Linked DNA regions of Homo sapiens: region 2 is linked to region 1. The links come from fine-mapping of genetic effects on gene expression. A gene starts in region 1. The other region holds a variant in brackets. All regions are shown on one strand. Distances are between the middles of the regions.

Region 1 (10,634 bases):
AACTGTTACTAAAGCCTTGCATAAGAGTAGTGCCTACACTGTGGGAGCCTCGCATGGCTGTGTTGAGTTAGGCAGTGTATACCCTGCCAGTGAGCTGATGAAGGGACCCTCAGGAGACCTGGGTTATCTACCCAGTGGAAGAGCTAGTTTATTGATGGTCTTGATGCTAGGATAAATGGAAATGGAACAAATGTACAATTTCAGGCCTCTTTTGTAGGTTTTTATAAAATATCCCATATTGTGTGAAATAAAATATGTTTTACTGTTTTACCCATATTCTGTATTTGGAAAGTTGGGTGAAAAACTACTGGCCCAGCCATGTGGCTTTTATTAGTTACAACATTGATACAGGTTCTTATCCTTGGAGACAATTTTCCCATGTGATTACCTAGATCATACCCTGCCCTGGAGAACGATCCTGAAATGTACAACAGAGAGAAAGTCATATTCTCTGGGAAACAGTGCTGCTGCTTGATTCAGGGAAGTGTTTATGAGTCTTGACTTTCTGTAACTATAGTAAAATTGAAAAGAGTAATTGAGTACTGAAATTCCTGATAGGGTTGAGTCCTGTTAAGTGTTATAAAGAAACCCCCAAATTCATAACAACTGGATCAATCCTCATGATAAATGCCTCTGTGCTGGTCCTTTACATATACTGCAGAATTTGACTGACAGATGGAGCTCAAGAGCTCTTACTAGTCCACAAGCCCTGGGCTGAAACTCAAAATATGGAATCAAACTGACATTTATGTATCATGTTCAAGATGGTGTGATAGAATAAACAGTGCCTCGTAAGTGAGAAAAAAATATTTGGGTTCTATCTCTACCTTTCTGTTCCTAACTATCCACTTGATCATGGGCAATTCATATCATCCCTCTAGGCCTTTGTTTATACAGCTATAAGACAATGAGAAGGCCAGTAGCAGTGGCTCACGCCTCTAATCCCAGCACTTTGGGAGGACGAGGCAGGTGGATCACGAGGTCAAGAGATGGAGATCATCCTGGCCAACATGGTGAAACCCCATCTCTACTGATAATAACAAAAATTAGCTGGGCATGGTGGTGGGCATCTGTAGTCCCAGCTACTTGAGGGGCTGAGGTAGGAGAATGGCTTGAACCTGGGAGGCGGAGGTTGCCGTGAGTCGAGATCGCGCCACGGCACCTCCAGCCTGGGCAACAGAGCGAGACTGTCTCAAAAACAAACAAACAAACAAACAAACAAACAACAATGAAAAACAATGGGAAACTAGACTGTTTCTCAAAGCCTAGTCCTCAGACCATTTGTTTCAAAATCACCTAGGGTTGGCGGTGGGGTTTCTTATAAAAATACACATTCCTGGGCCCCAACATAGTCTTACTGAATCAGCATTTTTGGGGATGATCTCAGAAATTTTATTTTTTTGTTTTGAGACAGGGTCTCACTCTATCACCCAGGCCGGAGTGTAGTGGCACAGTCAGAGCTCAGTGCAGCCTCAACCTCCCGGGCTCAAGCAATCCTTTCACCTCAGCCTCCCCAGTAACTGGGACCACAGGTGCTCACCATCATGCCCAGTTAATTTTTGTATTTTTTTTTTTTGTAGAGATGGGGTTTCATCATGTTGCCCAGGCTAGTCTCGAACTTCTGGGCTCAAGTGATCCTCCCTCCTCCACTTCCCAAAGTGCTAGGATTACAGGAGTGAGCCATAGTGTCCAGCCTCAGAATGTTTTTAAAAGTAAGCTTCCGGCCAGGCGTGGTGGCTCACGCCTGTAATCCCAGCACTTTGGGAGGCCAAGGCCGGCAGATCACGAGGTCAGGAGATCAAGACCATCCTGGCTAACACGGTGAAACCCTGCCCCTACTAAAAATACAAAAAATTATCCGGGCGTGGTGGCGGGTGCCTGTAGTCCCAGCTATTCAGGAAGCTGAGGCAGGAGAATGGCGTGAACCAGGGAGGTGGAGCTTGCAGTGAGCCGAGATCACGCCACAGCAGCCTGGCCTGGGCGAAAGAGCGAGATTCCGTCTCAAAAAAAAAAAAAAAAAAAAAAAAAAGTAAGCTTCCTAGGTGATTCTTGGGCTTATTAAAGTTTCTTCTGTAAACTTTTTTTTTTAAAGTATAACACATTCATTAAACTTACAGGATTATAGGGTTAGAATATCTCTAAGGTCCCTTCCAACACCAAAGAATTCTAAGAATCAGTCCATTCAACATATTTTCCCATGGGCATGTTTAGTAAACATGCAACTCTGTGACAGACTGTAATTTTGCTTCATGTGCAAAGGTATCTCAGTGATTTGGAAAAACTGATTTTTTTTCAAATATGTGGCCTCCCTCAGAGGTCAGTTGACGGTCCAGAGAGTGCCTTAGGTCCACTGTAAAGTCTGGTTCACGTTTGAGTTTAATATAGAAATTCCCATATATTCTCTATGTAAACACATAGCTCTATGGCAGACAACTGTTAGCTGGGTGGGAAGAGGGTATCTGGTTGTAATTCTGACTTTATTGCAGAATCAAACTGTATTATGGTCATTTAATCCTGAACTTCTTTGTCAACAAAACTCCAAACCCTGTGACCTCCCTCTCAGGGGACCTGGGATACTAAAGTGATAAACAGAATTTAAATGCTTCCTGAAGTGGTACAAAGATCACTGTGTTAATAATTTCCCTCCAAGCAAGCTGGTAAAGTAATAGGCTTAGGAGAGTCTTCTAGTTACAAAGTAGTGAAGTTATCGCTTTTCTCAGGCAGCTAGAAATTAATGGGAATTTTCTTGAAAGGACCATCTCTTCCAAATAATTTAGCCACCTTTAAACTTGTCTTTTTTTTATTCTGTTTTTTGAGATGGAGTCTCACTCTGTCCCCCAGGCTGGAGTGCAGTGGCATGATCTCGGCTCACTGAAACCTCTGCCTCCTGGGTTCAGGTGATTCTCCTGCCTCAGCCTCCCAGGTAGTTGGGATTACAGGCACGCGCCACCATGCCCAGCTAATTTTTTTTTTTTTAGTCGAGACGGGGTTTTTGCTATGTTGGCCAGGCTAGTCTTGAACTCCTAACCTCAAGTGATCCACCTGCCTCGGCCTCCCAAAGTGCTGGGATTACAGGCTTGAGCCACTGCGCCCAGCCTAAAATTTGGCTTTCTGCTTTTAAACTTTTATACAAAGCCTATATTTTTTGGATTATTTATTTCATGCCACATGAAGCAGGTGTGTAAGATTCCTGGTTTCTCACAAGTGAATTAACCTTTCATCTTTCTGTAACCCGCTTAGCTTGCCTCAGTTTCCCCAGCTATGAAATGAAGGGGTAGAGCAAGTGGACACTTCATCCCTTCCAGCACACTTAACAGTTTACATCCATGCAGAGGAAAACAATAAGATGTAGGAAAGAGGCTGGGTGTGGTGGCTCACACCTGTAATCCCAGCACTTTGCGAGGCCAAGGTGGGTGGATCGCTTGATCTCAGGAGTTTGAGACCAGCCTGGGCAACATGGTGAAACCCTGTTTCTACCAAAAATAACAAAAAATTAGCTGGGCATGGTGGTGCATGCCTGTGGTCCCAGCTACTTGAGAGGCTGAGCTGGGAGGATCGCTTGAGCCTGGGAGGCAGAGGTTACAGTGAACTGAAATAGCGCCACTGCACTCCAGCCTGGGCAACAGAACGAGACTGTCAAAAAAAAAAAAAAAAAAGATGTAGGAAAGAGCATGGCTTCGAAGTTGGATAGAGCTAGGTTGGAATTTTAAGCCTCAGTTTTCTCAACTGTATAATGGTGGTGGTGGTGGTGGGGATAGTGATATGTTATCTCCCGGGGTAATAAAAGCATCTACTATAGGGCTTAGCACAGAAATGCATTCTAGAAAGCTGAGGCTCCTCGGCTCCCTCGACCCCTACCCTGTCACCCAGGTCTTTCAGCCCACTCCTGTGTAGGCCTCTTCTTACTGACTGAGAGAAGGAACCCTTGGTCCTTATTCAAGTGCAGAGACAAGCTCTCTGGGAGGGGAAAGCCATCAGCCCTGTGAGTAACAGGTTCTCTGTCACTTCCTGACCTTGTCATCACTTAAGTTACTGTTTCAAGTCTGGCTGAAATGTGGCAGGAGCTAACCACAGAACTGAAAGGGTCACTATTGTGATAGATGCAGTGGGGGCTCACAACGGTCCTGTAGCAGATCCCCAGTATCTTCTCCCTGGGGATCAGGTGGGGTCACCTTTGTTCTGCAGGGAGGGGACAGGATGCTAACAGCAGTTGAGAGCTGGAAGCAACATTGAAGCCTGCCTCATTAGAGAGGAGCAAACCAAGGGACAGAGAGGAGAAGTGACTTTCCCATGATCACACAGCCAGTCAAGCAGCAGAGGTGAGAAGAGCCCCTCTGGATCCACTAGAGTTCGCACTCAAGATCCTCTGCATTTTAATGCAGATGTTATAAGTATTGATTAAGAGCTTGGAATTTGGAGATAGATGGCTGGGCATGAGGCTTCACCTCTCAGGACCTCAGTGGTCTCATCTATAAAAGTCCTATAACAAAGCCTACCCATTGTGAGGATTAAAAACCACACTGCCTGTAGAGTGCTTAACACAGAACCTAGCACATTATCAGCTTCCACAACAGGTGGTCCTAAAAGATCATTATTTGCGATTCAAGGAAACACTGCCAACCTTTTTCTATACCTACAGTTCCGATCTGAACCTCCCTCTGCGAACCCCTTATGCCACGCTGTGGCTCGTCAGTCAAGGCGCCGAGAAGCCCTGGTGCCAGGGCAGGGCGATCCTCGGGGCTCACCTGGCGACACCAGCAGCACCTTCGCCCCGCAGCACTGGAAGCAGTGCAGCAGGGACTTCGCGCGGATGTTGTAATTGAGGCACGCCATGGCACAGCCCAGCTTCACCAGCCCCAGCCACAGCCACACGTAGGCCGGCTCGTTACCCATAAGGAGCGCCACGCAGTCTCCCTGGCGCAGGCCGAGGTGGTCGTGCAGCGCCCGGGCCACTTGATTGCTGCGCCGGTCCACCTGCGCGTAGGTGAGAGTCTCGTCGCGGAAGAGCAGAAAAGGCTTGTGTGGCGTCTGGCGCGCTTTCTCCAGGAACGCCCGCAGGATGGTGCGCGCCGGCCGCCGCTTCCCGTAGCTGCGCACCCTCCGGCCCACGGCGGCCACCTTCAAGAAGTAGCCTATGTCCTGGAAGAAGTATGGGCAGCAGAGGTTCACCAGGAGCGGCAGGAACAGCAGTCCCGCCAGGACTGTGTAGATGGCGGAAAGCATGACGGCTGCGGGGCCCTCTGTCCCAGCGAGGGCAGAGGGTTCACCCCGGGCGTGCAGCGCGGCGACTGGGCGGGCTCCGGGCGGACTGGCGGGCTGCGCCGGGGCGCACGCGGCGGGACGCCGGGCTCGCGTGAGATGAAGGGGAAGACAGAGCTCCTCCGCTGCAGGTACCGCCGCGGGCTCCGGAGCAGGTGTAGTCGTATGCGCGTTGCCGGGGGTTCCGGGCAGGACTGGCCGGCTGAGCCCGCCCCCTTGTGGGGGGCAGCCACCTGCTCTCCCGGCCCTCCCACGCGGTCCTCCCGGGGCTGGGCAGGCTGCCCTGCGGCTCACCAGGAGCCTCGGCCACTTCCCAGCTCGAGTCTGGAGGTCTGGGGTCAAGTCTGGACCTCCTCGCGTTGTGACCGAAGTACTTTACCTCTAGGAGCCACGGTTTCTTTAAATGGTGATGAGACGCGCTTAGCGGACGTTGGGAATATTAAAGGAGATATTGCAGGCGTGGGGCTATTATTTGTTACCACTAATAGAATGGCTTATGGAGATGACACTGTTATTACCGATAAAGTGCCTTATAAATGTCAGACAGTCCTATTATTTATTAATAGCGGGTACCAGGTGCCACTGCCAAACCAGAATCTCATCTCTCCTTCCTGGTCCCAAGGGCTTTCCGCCTGGTCTCTCTTTGTTTCTCAGATTTGCTTCCCAGCCCGACTGCCAGGCGGTCTCCTGTAGCGAAGGCTTCAAGGTTGAACAGAAATGCCTGTGGCAGTCACGTCCAGCTCATCCCAAGCCCTGCCAGGTGAGTGAGGGCAGGACACTCTAACCTAGTCGGCCCTGCCTGGTCGGGGGAGTCCTGATTTCGTGAAGAGCAGTGCTACACCGCACCACCTGAAATCAAGCTTTGACATTATTTTACGATTTTGTTCTGTTAAGTGATCCTGCTGTTCCCTCATGTTGAAAGTTGTCAAGTGTTGTCAGCACAGTTCACACATTTAATAAGTGGCTCTGTCAGAGAATAGTATAGTACAGAGGACATTGAGTAAGTGGTATTGGCATGACTCAAAAACCATTTCTTTTAGAGGAAATGTGAACCTTTCTTTTAATTTGCCTTAGTGCTACTTCTGTACGAAGTGAATGCTCACTACTTGCCACTGAGGAGGGTCAGGATCTAAGTAGTGTTTTATTTTCATCCTCTACTGTCCTCCTGTGTTCCTCTATCTTAATTTGATACGATAAATACAGATAATGCTTATTCCTCCCAGACACGCTGCTAGGAGCTTCCCTATGTTACATTTTGGGAGCCTGAGTTATTTTATACAGGTGGCACTTTCATGCTCATTTACAGACAAGAAAGGGAAGCTTAGGTGAATTGAGACAGCCGGTAAGTAATTCGTGGGTTTTGGAAATGGTATCTGTTTGGTCCCGGGGAACCAACTCTTAGCTTATTCTTAGTAACTATACTATGCTGTCCTCCTATTCTCTAGGTTTCTGTCCATGTCCTCTTTTTTTTTCGGTGTGTGTAAAACACACAAAAATGTTTCACATTCCCTCCAGGCCACCCCCTGCCGTTTTTTAGCCTCCTTTTCGTATCCCTAGTAACTGCGCAAGCAACCTTTCCCTTTTCCTGACTTTTTCATTTCTGATCCAGCTACCTGGTTGCATCATTTCCCTGGGGATGAGCTGGGGGCCTTCATCATCCCTGAGGAGAAAGCAGTAGAATTAACCAAAGTGAGGGCCCGACAGAAACCATTCTCATGTGCACTTCTTTCATGGTGAAGCTCAGAGCCAGCCCTTCCTTTTTCATCCCAATGCCACCCTCGTCCCTTGATGGCTAATCGCTTCTGTGTAGCCACCTGCACCCCTCTTCTCTTTTCCTTGAACAGCTACTGTCTACCCAGAGTGCTAGATTACCACAAGGGTCCACTTTTTCCCCTCTTATTCTGAGGATCACTTTAACCTCAGTTACAAGTAAAAGAAAACAAGACCCAAGCTAGCTGAAGCAGAAACAGGAATTTAAGTAGTAACTGGAGAGTCCGGGGCTAAGACATCAAGGATTTTAAATGCTGACACCTGGATCTAGTTTTGCTTTCACTATTTCTCCTCTGCACCTCCTCTGTTCTCATTCAGGCTCTCTGGTTTTTGTCCAAAGATGGCTGCCAACAGCCCTTAGGGGTACATGCTTTCTGGCTCAACTTCAGAGAGAAGTACAGGAATCTTTTTCTTAGGAGTTCTCATAAAAAAAAAAATCCCTGACTGGATTATGCGCCCATTTCTGAACCAATGTCTGTGGGTCCTGGGGAAAAAGGTGCTAGTTGTTTTAAGCCAATCAGCGCTCACCCATGGGGGTGAGAGTATAATCAATTTCACCTAGGCCATTTTGTGGAACGTTTTACGGTATTATTAAAAAGTGGGGTTAGGGAGAGTAAATTTGGGGAAGTAATTTTCAAATGTCTATAATATATACCTTGGGAGTCCCAGTGATTCCAGCTTTGAGCCTGGGATCCAGCTCTTGCTTTATCACGAGGTTAATAGATGTCTTAGTCTGTTTGGGCTGCTATAACAAAATACTGTAAGCTGGGTAGTTTATAAACAACAGAAATTTATTTCTCAGACTTCTGGAGGCAAGTCTAAGATCAAGGTGCCAGCAGATGTGGTGTTTGGTGAAGGGCTACTTTCTCACAGATGGTGCCTTCTCACTGTGTACTGTTTGGTAGAAGGGACAAATTACCTCTCTGGGGCCTGTTTTATGAGGGCACTAATCCCATTCATGAGGGCTCTGCCCTATGATCAAATTACTCCCCAAAGGCTCTACCTCCTAATACCATCACATTGAGGGTTAGGATTTCAATATATGAATTTTGTAGGGGACATGAACATTAAAACCACAGCAATAGTCTTCCTGGAAATATTGCTGCCATCTTATATCTCCACTGCTCAATTATCTTTAGTGGTTCCCCATTGCTTCCTATTGTCTTCCACCAATGACATCTATAGACAGTTGTACTTGTACAGCATACTAGAACATACCTGGCCTAGAGTTGACCAGATGCCCTGGCTTCTGCCTGACTCCTTTGAAAGGTGATCGATAGCTTAGCACGTTGGCTGCCCATTCTTGGTACATCTCTTGGGAACCTCTGGTCTATAAAATGAAATTTAAACTTTATTTTCTGGCTCTTCTGAATCTCACTCAAGCTTTCACTACACTCAATTGACAAATATTTATTGAGTTTCTGCTATGAACCAAACATTATTAGGTATTAAATATTTTAAAATGGACCAAAACTTAATTCTAACTGTTCCTTTTCAAGCGCACTTTGTTTTTAGCAAGTCTGGTCTGCACACTCCTAAAAATGCCCTGCACCTTCCTCTTTCTACTGGCTTGTTCTTACCACTTTCCACCCCTGACCATCCTAACCCTGTAAATCTCAACTCTCCTTTAGGGCAGTAGTTGTTTGATTCCTGAATTTCTTAGTCCCGTGTTATATTTCGAAACCAAGTTAGGGACTCAAAATAAGTAACGACTTCTTAATTTTTCTAGTAAGAACAACCCCCTCCCCCATCACAGTATATTTGTTATTTTATAGAAGAATGACATTTTTGGCACTAAAAAAGTATACCTGAACTGTACACTTAAAAATGGTTAAAATAGTTAATTTTTATGTTATGCATATTTTACCACAATTTTAAAGACAGTAACAATAAACATATAGCCCTTTCCAAGAAAAGACGAAGACAATGTTACACCAACACATAAAAAGTACAGAAATTATCCAAGTGTGGGGGCATGCACCTGTAATTCCAGCTACTCGGGAGACTGAGGCAGGAGGATCACTTGAGGCCAGGAGTTCAAGACTGGACTGGGCAACACAGTGAGACCCCATCTCATATGAAAAACAAAACAAAATAATCTTACAAATTCTCACAAACAGATAAAAATAAAAACATTAAAAATATTTTTGAATGTAGAAAACTGCAACTTTTGTCTGGGTTTTTATACCATATAGAAATTGTTTTTATACAAGTTTGTCTATTCAGTAACATAAATTCCACAGGGAAATATGAAATAGAGCCAGATCTTGGACTTTGATGTAATTTAGGATTTTGTCAGCACTGAGATCTCAGACATGGAGATTCTCCGTCCCCATAGGCTTAGTTAAGCCTCCTCATTCCACTTCTCCCATTCTCTGACATTACTGAGCCTATTCATTTCCTCTATCAAGATTTCGGTCCCTTCCTGGCCAGTCACTTCAACGTGGCCTCCTAGACCCCTCTTTTCCTTAAACTTTCTATCCAGGTATAGATGACCTCAAATGCCCACTGTCTTCTGTCCTATTCTAGGTATTGCAGGAGAAGTTTAGGGGCAAGACAGGATTACTGGGTGTGCATACTGACACCTTCTAGCCTTGGTCAGGACGTTCATCCCTATCATCTATCTCTGCTATTTGAGAGAAGGCTTCCTATTGGCAGTCCCAGACCTTCCCTACCCCCTTCAAAGTTTCCAATCCCAATCTCAAATGTTCTTTTAAAGCAGGTGGCGTCCCTTCCTACTTTATGGAGATGAAGTAGTTCACTATTTCTCAAACTTTACAAGTCTGAGAATCACCTGGGGAACATGCTAAAATATAGTTTATTAAGCCCCATCTCCAAAATTTCTGATTCAAAGAATTCACATCTCTAAGAAGTTACCAGGTATTGCTGACACTGCTAGTCCAGGGACTATACTTTGAGAACTACTGATTTAGTCCATTGGCTTCCAAACTACTCGGTAGAGCCCTAGTGGCTGAGAAGTTACTGAGGAGAGTTCATTGCATAGAGTGGGAAAGGGGCTCTGGGAGGATCCTACCCTAGCTCCAATCAAAACAGCTCATATACTTGTTTTACACTTCCATGTAGAGTTCATGTGAAAAAAAGTATTCCCAAACATTTTCCTTTAAATCTTCCAGCCCATGCTGATCCAGCCCTTGTACTGAACTTATAAACCCATCGCATAGGTGGGCTTTTGATTGTTTCTTACCTGTTAGTTTTGCCTTCGTAACTAGAATTCAATTTCCTGGAATGAAGTAATAGAAAAGATTGTGAGACTTGAAGCCAGAAGACCTGATTTTGAGTCTTTATCTGTCATGCATTGGCTGAGTAGCTTTGAGAAGTGTACTGAGCTCTCACAGTGACTTGTGTTAATTTTGTAGAATTTGAGGCACCTAATGCACAGGGCCATTCTTGACAAAAAAGTATAGATTATGAAGCTTGCAATTTTTGTGACATTACATACTTGGTACAAATAGAAATTTTGTGTGACTGACTCATTCAGTGGTTTGTGGGAAGAATAATCTCTGACTGTTGTTGCCATAAGTTAATCACATTTCTTGAAATGTGGGTGCCTGTCATCCTATTGACTGTCTAGCATGGTACCATTT
Region 2 (10,634 bases), 52 kb after region 1:
TCCTTGTTTAGCGGAAAGCATTTGCTTATTGTGCCACCAGGTAAAGTCTCATTTGGAATTCTTGTGCTTGGATTTTTAATGAGTTTGTTCCCCATACTTAGTTTAGATTTACAGAATGTCTAGGGGCGTGGCCATATGTGCACATAAAAGGTCACATAAAGTGATCTCGGGCAGATATGACAGGTCAGATGCTCTGGGTATAGCTCAAGCAATTCCCGCAAGCCGCAATGATAATGATTCATGGAAATGGGGTTAAAATGAAAGGTTCTCTGAAGTGTGACACCGTCAAGTGATGGTGGAGTGGTTAAAGATTGAGAGCAATATGGAAAAACTATTCAGAATATTGTTGGAGGGAAAATCCAGATAATGAAATGTAGAGTACCTCCTTATCAACCTACAAGCTGAATTTGTCACACTAAATATTTAATGAAGAGAAAACTGAGAAAGTTTAGAGATGAATGATGTGTCACACTCATATCTCAAAAGGAGAAAAGATAGCTTTTAGATTTCAACCAGCTAAGGACTAAAGGACTGGGGACATAAAACCATTTAAATTTTCCTCTAAGATTAGATTTTGAGGCTCTAAGTTAAGGCTTGTTGTTCTAGACAACCCACTTGAACATTCAGAAAACCTGAAGAATCTTTTTAACAATGTTCAGGTTTTGTTTTACTGCTGTGAGAGTAAAAATAACTTCACCCTCACATCTGATGAGTCACAGAGTGACTGTTGAGCTTGAAATGTTCTCTACTTCTGCTTTGTGATGAGCTAGCTGAGCATTGGTATGCAGAACTCAAACAGATGGACCAGAATTTGTTCCACGTTCACTCTCCTTATTTTTGTCAATGCCACCAACATTCCCCTAGCCATTAGGGCAAAGAATGTGACATCATCTTTGACATTTTACCTCTTCCTTCCCCTTCTGTTGCCAAATGTTGTCAGTTCTATATTTGGAATATTTCTTGAATCTATACTTTGTTCTCCATTCTTGTTGACACTGCCTTAGGCTATTATTGTCATGTACTAGGATAATTGTAAGGGTCATAATCTAACCCTAACATATGTTTTTTCCCCTGATTTCCCGTTATCTCCTATGCACTCCACTTGCCAGATAGACTGAAGTACAGTATTTGATGTTCTTTGCAGATACTCTGTTTTCTGACTTCTCTGTCTTTGTTCCTGCTGTTCTTTCTACTTGAATGGCTTTCACTCCTTATTGTTGTATACAGGAATCACACCAATTTTCAAGGACTAGCTCAAGAGCTTTCTCTTCCCCAAAGTCTGCTCTGATCTTGACCCTCTTCTCACTTGCCTTTCTTTCCCATTGCAACTTTCTTTCCACCTTTATAAGAGCGCTGATCATTGCATAGTTTACTTGCCATAGTTATTTTTACATTATGTTTTATTTCTTCTGCTAAACTCCAACTTTTAATTTTTATTTATTTTTACTTTTGACAGTCTATTTTTCTTTTTTTCCATTTCCCTCTCACTGACAGTCTATCATTCTTACATATTAATTTATTTTTCCTTAGTTTTACTGAGGTATAATTTATGAATAAAAATTATCTATATTTAAGGTATACAATGTGATGATTTGATATACATATACATTGTGAAATAGTTACCATAATCAAGCTAATTAACATATCCAATCACCACACAGTTACCATTTTTTTATTTTAAATTTTTATTTTTTATAGAGGTGGGGTCTTGCTATGGTGCCCAGGCTGGTCTTAAGCTCCTGGCCTCAGCGATCCTCCTGCCTTGGCCTCCCAAAGTGTTGCGATTCCATGCATGAACCACCATACCTGGCTCATTATTTTGTGTGTGTGGAGAGAATGCTTAAGATTTACTCTCTTAGCAAATTCCAAGTATACAATGCAGTATTATTAACTATAATCATCATGTTGTATGTTAGATCTCCAAAACATATTCATCTTATGACTGAAAGTTCATAAATTTTGACCAACATCTCCCCATTTCTCTAACCCCAGCCCCTGGCAACTGCTTATTATGCTCTCTGCTTCTGTGAGTTTGACTTTCTTATTTTTAATTTATTTTTGTTTTTTATTTTTGATACAGGGTCTCACTCTGTCACCCAGGCTGGAATGCAGTGGCGTGATCATGGCTCACTGCAGCCTCCACCTCCCCAGACTCAGGTGATTCACCTGAGTAGCTACTCAGCCTCCTGAGTAGCTGGGACTACAGGCACATGCCACCACGCCTGGCTAGTTTTTTGTAATTTTTTTTTTGTAGAGATGAAGTTTCCCCATATTGCACAGGCTGGTCTCAAACTCCTGGGCTCAAGCAATCCTCCTGCCTTTGCTTCCCAAAGTGCTAGGATTATAGGTGTCGGCCACTATGCCCAGTGAGTTTGACTTTTTTAGATTTCACATGTAAGTGAGAATTATACAGTATTTATCTTTCTGTTTCTGGTCTATTTCACCTAGCATAATGTCTTCCAGGCTGATCTAGGTTGTCACAAATGGAAGGATTTTCTTCATTTTCATGGCTGAATAATATTCCATTGTATGTACAAAACTTCAAGTTTTTTAAAAATTATACTTTAAGTTCTGGAATACATGTGCAGAATGTGCAGGTTTGTTACATGAGTATACATGTGCCATTGGTGGTTTGCTGCACCTATCAACCCATCATCTACATTAGGTATTCTCCTAATGCTATCCCTCCCCTAGCCCACCACCCCTCAACAGGCCCTGGTGTGTGATGTTCCCCTCCCTGTGTCCATGTGTTCTCATTGTTCAACTCCCACTTTTGAATGAGAACATGTGGTGTTTGCTTTTCTGTTCCTGTGTTAGTTTGCTGAGAATGATGGCTTCCAGCTTCATCCATGTCCCTGCAAAGGACATGAACTCATCCTTTTTTGTGGCTGCATAGTATTCCATGGTGTACATGTGCCACATTTTCTTTATCCAGTCTGTCACTGATGGGCATTTGGGTTGGTTCCAAGTCTTTGCTAGTGTGAATAGTGCTGCAGTAAACATATCTGTGCCTGTGTCTTTATAGTAGAATGATTTATAATCCTTTGAGTATATACCCAGTAATGGGATTGCTGGGTCAAATGGTAATTCTGCTTCTAGATTCTTGAGGAATTGCCACACTGTCTTTCACAATGGTTGAACTAATTTACACTCCCACCAACAATTTAAAAGCGTTCCTATTTCTCCACATCCTCTGCAGGGTCTGTTGTTTCCTGACTTTTTAATGATCGCCATTCTAACTGGCATGAGATGGTGTCTTATTGTGGTTTTGAATTGCATTTCTGTAATGACCAGTGATGATGAGCCTTTTTTCATGTTTGTTGGTTGCATAAGTGTCTTCTTTTGAGAAGCGTCTGTTCATGTCCTTCACCCACTTTTTTATGGATCCATAAAAGAATCCATATCTAATTAATATTCATATTACCAATGCAAGCTTAGGATGGCTGTTCCTGTACTTTTTATTATGAAAGTCATGAAACAGAATACTAATTATTTAATAGTAATACAGCCTGTACTTAAATAAATATTGCCAATAACTTGTTTATTTTCAAGTTGGTTTCGGGGGTGCCAAACCACAGGCCAATTGTTGAATGACTATTATAGTGTGTGTGTGAGTACTATAATCAGGCATAGAAACAATGGCCTTTGGCATTACCTTTAAAAATAAGTGAAAGGACAAAATAAATCTAATAAGAATTTGGACTAATATAAATATAATCAGGTTAAATTTCCAGAACAAAACATTTTTGTTTCTAATGCTGAGTAACAGGTGCAAGAGCAGTAGCTGCGTGATTTTATAACCATTATTTTTAAAATATTTCTAATTACATGATAATATTAATTGAAATATAAATATTTTTAGTATTTTAGTATTAAAATATTTATATTTCAGTTAATATTAGTATAATATAATATTATATGAATATAATAATATATAAATATTGTTAGTATTATTCCAAAGATACTACTAAGAGTTTGAAGTATATCAATGCTTATATATTAGTGTTAAACATTTGATTATAAGATATTGAAATGTTACTCCCCTTTTTGCCTAATTGTGATGAACTAGAGCTTATATTTCTAGCATATAAATGAAGAATCAGACATATCTGGTTCCTTGGGGATGAAACATTCACACCAGCTCCTCTAGCGAATAAAAGGAGAATCATTATAGAGAGGCAGAGATAGTGGATTGGTTAGGCACATAGATTCTAGAACCAGACTGTCAGGTTCAAATTCCACTTCTGCCATTTTCTAGCTCTGCAGCTTTGTGAAAGTTCTTTAACCTCTCTGTTTCTCTGATTCTTTATCTGTAAAGGATAGAATTATTGTAATATGAAATGAATTACTATATATGAAGCACTTAGAACTATTAAGTACTGCATAGCTATTAGAAGTTCTTACCTATCATTATTGATGTGGTTAGGTTTTGTGTCCCCATCCAAATCTCATTTTTAATTGTAATCTTCATAATCCCCATAATCCCCATGTGTCAAGGAGAGATCAGGTGGAGGTAATTGAATCATGGGGGCAGTTTCCCCCATGCTGTTCTCGTGATAGTGAGTGAATTCTCATGAGATCTGATGGTTTTATAAGGGGCTCTTTCCCCTTCACTAGGCACTTCTCCTTCCTGCTGCCTTGTGAAGAAGGTGCCATGCTTTCCCTTCACCTTCTGCCATGATTGTAAGTTTCCTGAGAACTCCCCAGCCATGCTGAAACTGTGAGTCAATTACACCTCTTTTGTTTATAAATTACCCAGTCTTGGGTAGTTCTTTATATCAGTATGAAAATGGACTAATACAATTACTAACATAGAACGTTAGACTAAGGAGGGTTGCTTAGACATTGCAATCCAAGACTCTTATTTATTTTTATTTTTTTAATTTTTTTTGAGTCAGAGCCTTGCTCTGTCACCAGGCTGGAGTGCAGTGGCACCATCTCGACTCACTGCAGCCTCTGCCTCCTGGGTTCAAGCAATTCTCCTGCCTCAGCCTCCTGAGTAGCTGGGACTACAGGCGCCTGCCACCACGCCTGGCTAATTTTTTATATTTTTAGTAGAGACGGGGTTTCACCTTGTTAGCCAGGATGGTCTCGATCTCCTGACCTTGTGATCCGCTC[G/A]CCTCAGCCTCCCAAACTGCCGGGATTACAGGCATAAGCCACTGCACCCAGCCAAGACTCTTATTTTTTAGATGAAGAAACTGAGACCCCAAGAAGTTGAGTGACTTATATAAGAATACTCAGTTACTCACCAGAGCCTGGGTAATCTTATCACAGGAGTCCTGGGCTCTTACATTCTGTGCTAAGCCCAGTGCTACCAGTGGGAAATTGAGTTGCTACCCTCAGGTATTAGAGACCCAGACAAGTGGACAGGTGTGATTATAGCAAGGCAAGTGCCATGATGGGGAAAGGCAGCATATCATGGGAGCCCAGAGAAGCTCTGATTTCTTAAAATTCTCTGAAGAGGGTTCCTAGAGGAAGTGAGAATGCAGTTAAGACCTGAAAGATGTGGAAAATTTAGCCAGGTAAACAAGGCAGGGAAAGGGCATCTATGCAGGCTGTGAAAAGGCCTCAACATTCATATAGAGTAGAGAACCAAAGAAGTCTAGTCTGGCCAAGTGGTGGAGACCTCTAGATCTCTTTATAGCAAATGAAAATCTCCCTAGTACTCTACCATGTAATTTCTTTTCTTTTCTTTCTTTTTTTTTTTTTTTTTTTTTTTGAGTCAGAGTCTTGCTCTGTCACCAGGCTGGAGTGCAGTGGCACCATCTCGACTCACTGCAGCCTCCGCCTCCTGGGTTCAAGCGATTCTCCTGCCTCAGCTTCCCAAGTAGCTGGGACTACAGGCACGTGCCACCATGCTCAACTAATTTTTGTATTTTTAGTAGCGACGGGGTTTCACCATGTTGCCAAGGATGGTCTCGATCTCTTGACCTAGTCTACCACATAATTTCAATACTGGCCATTAATTAAAATCCCCTTTTGCATTTGTGCTGCATTGAATAGTGTGGCCCAAAATTCATGTCTACCTGGAATGTTGGAATGTGGCCTTACTTGGAAATGGAGTCTTTGCAGATGTTAAGATTGAGGTCATATTTGATTAGAATGGAGCCCAAATCTAATCATGTCCTGATAAGAGGGCCATATAAAGACATGAAGAAACAGAGAAGACGCACAAAGGGCATGCCATGTGTTGATAGAGGGAGAGTGTGGAGGGATGGGTCTACAAGCCAAAGAATGCCAAAGATTGTCAGCAAGTACCAGAAGCTGAAGAGAGGCATGGAACATATTCTCCCTCAGAACCTCCATAAGAAACCAGCTTTGCCAACACCTTGATTTTGGTCTTCCAGCCTCTAGAACTGTGAGAGAATCAGTTTCCCTTGTTTTAAGCCACCCAGCTTGTGGTACTTTGCTATTCCAGCCCTAGGAAACTAATACAGCGTTCTTGATATGAATTTGACTCCTCAAGATAACAAGAAAAAAAAACAGATTGCATTTAGTGATGGACATGAGGTAGCTGGGGTCACAATTTACTCACACTATTACCTATATGCCCTAAAAAATGTGGCTACTTAACTTTTATTTATTTATTTATTTTTTTGAGACGGAGTCTCGCTCTGTCACCCAGGCTGGAGTGCAATGACGCGATCTCAGCTCACTGCAACCTCCACCTCCCGGGTTCAAGTGATTCTTCTGCCTCAGCCTCCTGAGTAGCTGAGATTACAGGTGCGCACCACCAGGCCCAGCTAATTTTTGTATTTTTAGTAGAGACAGGGTTTCACCATGTTGGTCAGTCTGGTCTCGAACTCCTGACCTTGTGAGTTCTCGAACTCCGCCCACCTTGGCCTCCCAAAGTGCTGGGATTATAGGCATGAGCCACTGCGCCCAGCCTACTTAACTTTTTACAAAGGATCTGTCCTTTTTCACTAACTCACACACTCCAAAGGGTAAGTAGGGAAAAATAATCCCCAATAAACCTTCCACTGATCAATTTACCAACCACAGTCTTTTCCAGTTCAAATAAGCTTTTGATTATTTAGTCTTTTTTAGGGCCTTTGGGTGTCCCTCTCCTCTCCTGCTTCTCTCCAGAATGGCATCACAGAGAACCTGTGTGACTCTGTGACAGTAGAGGGAAGTGGGAGCCTTGGATCCATGCCAGGTCCTCTGGATTCTCTTTGCACAAGCAGATCTTGTCATTTTGGCCCAGGCCTTGCCCTTCATCAGCCACAAGGAGGCAGGAACATAGCCTCAAGCATCTGCAGCCACCTTTCTCCTCCAGTGTTCCATACTGCTCCCAGCTTTGCTGGATCTGATGCTCTGATGGAGAAGGGCACCCTTCAGACCCAAAGGAAATGGGTGCTTAGCCTAGATTTTCCATGTGACTCCAACTCTCTGGATGTTTCTAAAGCCAGCTCCCTCTTGAAGTTTAGCTCTGAAGCTAGGAAAACCCAGGACTCTGGTGTCTGTCTCCATGATTCCCCTTCTTTCGCTGGTCTCTGGCATGACTTAACTCCATAAGTGTTCCTCCTGCTTTTCTGGGGTGATATTAATTCCTTCTTTCCTTGACAGACTGGATACAAAACGAAACACTGGCTTACTCAAAAGAGAAGCTCTGAAGGTAGCACCTTCCTTACCCTGAAATGCACAGAAACATGGGGTTGCACAAGAAGTAGCTCCATCATCTGCTCATCTGCTGTAGCTCCTGGGCCTTGAGACTGGGGCACACTCTACCTAAAGATGGCTCAGCATTGGTGGGGATGTGTGCAGAACCACAGTGAGGCACACCTTGGTATTGTTCATCTGAAATTAATATTTCTTCAAAGACAGACCTTACTGGTGTTTGTTCCTCTCCCTATGTATAATGGGATATCTCTAGAGGACAGGATGGTCCTAGAGCTGCCTTGAACAGTTTTATCTCCCTCCTGCCATCCGATGCTTTAACCTCCTGCTCCAGTGCAGTCTTCTAGTTCTGTAGGATCAATTTCTTTGCAATCGGTATTATAGCACAAGCTGCAGCAGTTTATTTATCTAAGAGAGAATGCGTCTAGGTTGCTATCCTCAGAGATAGTGTGTATAAGGCAACATTTGAGGCCTCCATGACTCAATTCTTGCCTAATCTTTGCCTGGTCTCTGATCCATTAGGACCTAGAAATTACATTGACTGATATACTGAGATGATGGCAAACTCACCTTTGCTCTCCACATTCACGATTGCTGTGGGATGTATGTTTGTGACTCACTCAAGCCATTTAGAATGGAAGCCCAAGTCACAGTAGAGGAAGGCCATTGTTACTGAACTGAACATGGGTCAGTTAATCTGCCTGCCCATGCAGCAAAGCCAAATACTAACACTGGGATTGATTTGCAGTGAGGAAAAGTGAAGCATTTATTGCAGGGTGCTATGCAAGGAGAATTGGGCAGCTAATCTTAAAACCCAAACCCCTTGATGGCTTCCATGTAAGAGTTTTTAAAGGCAGGGAGGCAGAGGTTCCAGGCAGAGCCATAAATCAATACATGGAGGCTATTGGTTTGACCTAAAAAGGGGGAGACATCTTGAAGTGGGGGTCCACAGGTTACAGGTAGATTCAAAGATTTCCCGATCTGCGATTGGTTAAGATTTGTTTAAAAACTTGGGGTCAGCAGAAAGGAATGTTGAACTCTGGCCTGTAGGTATAACTTCTGCCAGGCCCCTCAGGAAGAAATTTAGAATGAAGAACAGTGGTCAGATTTCAGTCTCCAGTTCCCCCTTCCCCAAGGTCTGTTGTGCCAGTGGATGGTGTTTTCCATTTGGTGGCGGGGGGGTGTGGGGGCTGTGGGCAGGTTTCTGCAAAACAGCTCAGGGACATATGTTAAGATGTTATTTTTAGTTTCTATTGGGACTCTAACTTCTTTGGCTATTGTTTCAAGCTATTATTACCTCCTTGCTTATCAGATTGCCTGCCACCCTCCACCAAGCATGGAAATAAAGGAAAATCTTGCGTTTCTTCAATGGAAATTCCAGGCACCTAGCTAGTCCTGAGAATTAAATGAGCAACTTGATAAGTAAGAGAGTAATAGTAGCTTAAAATAATAGCTAAAGAAGTTATAGTCATAAGATGTTTGGTTCTCTACAGAAGCTAAAGATAACATCTTGACATATGACCCTGAGTTTACTTTTCAGAAACTCGGACCTCCACCAAATGGAAATCTTTCTTGCACAAGGTCCAGGAACCTTCTCTTGGGATCTGGATTGGGATCCCTTTCCAGTAACAATATCAGGTCATCGGGACATTTCCTGGGTCTGTTCAGTAAACATTATTAACCTGTTCCCTTAACTGAAACTGTGTCTAAGAATGACTAATCTTCTGGGAATGTAAGATGGAGTTGCTCTGGTTCAAAGGCCTTGGACGCCTCTGACAGTATTAGTGAAGTGTTTTTTTTTTTTTTTTGGACTGTTAGCTTGTTAGGAACTAACAAGACCCTCCCTAACTCATCTACTCATCTTTCAGGACTCAGCTTCACTTGTTCTGAGGGTTTCCCGTGACACCTCCACACCCACACTGAAATATGGCTTCCCCTCTCCTGTAGTTCCGAAGCCTGTTTGGACAAGGGACACCTAAATTAGAGTTACTATCACATTGTGTCACAATTTGTTCACAACTATTTTCTCTTCCACTAGAAGGATTCTTGTTAGGGCAGATATCGACCTAAAAGAAAGAATCCCAGGCAAAATAGATATAACTAGAGGGTTTATTTGGGCCAAGCTTGAGGATTGCAACCTGGGAGCATAGATTCAGTTTTCTGCAGTTACAAGCTGTAGCAGCAGTTACAAGCAGGTTTTTAAAGAAAAGAAGAGGCAGTTTCTAAGTTGTTTACCAAGAATTTACATTAAAAATAACATAAGTTATTGATTGGCTATATGTTGTTTCTTTGTATTAAAATTCCAGGAACATGAAGATAATAGGTGAGGCAGGTAGTCAGGAACAAAATGCCTTTAAACAATTGCCCCCACAGATGGGTTTGGGGGTCACATGACTGAAATCTTAGACTCCTGTCTTTTTGGGCCTGATAAATTTTTCGAACCTCCCGTAGTGCAGACTGCTCTGAGCTATTTTTCTGTTCTCACAGAGACCAGGTCTCAGTTACCTTGGGGTCCCCAATGCCTTGCAGAGGGGTTGATACAGAATTGGGGCTTGGAAAATGGTGAAGAATGTGTGAAATGTCCCAGAGACATGTCCTGATTAAGAGCCTGAACTCCTTTGATCTTGGACCCTACACTTCCCAAGTGTCATATAAGGGGTAGGAAATTTTCACACCCAGTGACCTGGAGGACAGACTAAAAGGGTAAAGAGATGAAGAGCAGAGCGTCTCTTCTCATTGGGATGACAGTTTGCTAAGGAGAAAATGGGGCTGGAGTGAGTGTTAAAAGACCCTAAGTGTCTGGCTGCTCCTTGGGTCTTGGAGATTCTGAGATAACAAGAACCATGTAGCCCTGAAACTGATCCAGATCGGGTTCATTGTTCTACTACTCCTTTCTTGTAAATGCCCTGATTGTTGGAAGGACTTCTTATGATGTCAGTCTATAAAAAAGCGGAGGCCAAAAGTCTTTACTGGATACCCATTATGTGCAAAGAAGATACTATACTCCCCTGATAGCA

Which allele goes with the higher level. Alleles are on the strand shown, and positions count from the first base shown. SD is a standard deviation of normalised expression in the study named.
In carriers of allele G in region 2, the expression in caudate of the gene that starts at base 5,455 in region 1 tends to be lower than with A alone (moderate effect, 0.42 SD a copy in GTEx).

Evidence for each region. PIP is the estimated chance that this variant, and not a neighbour inherited with it, causes the effect.
Region 2: its variant is the best candidate, but not a certain one, in a credible set for the expression of SLC27A2 in caudate (GTEx, PIP 0.50).

Annotation. Positions count from the first base shown.
Region 1 is chr15:50,177,017-50,187,650 of GRCh38, reverse strand. It overlaps SLC27A2 (solute carrier family 27 member 2), which reads right to left and starts at 5,455. Exons shown (of 10, transcript NM_003645.4): 1 at 4,746-5,455. The coding sequence starts at 5,223. It also overlaps a transcript of ATP8B4 not described here. RefSeq lists silencers at 4,854-4,953, 5,224-5,563.
Region 2 is chr15:50,125,032-50,135,665 of GRCh38, reverse strand. It overlaps a transcript of ATP8B4 not described here. Among named protein-coding and RNA genes, the nearest start is that of ATP8B4, 11 kb to the right of the region's middle. The variant G/A (reference allele first, on the strand shown) is at 5,119.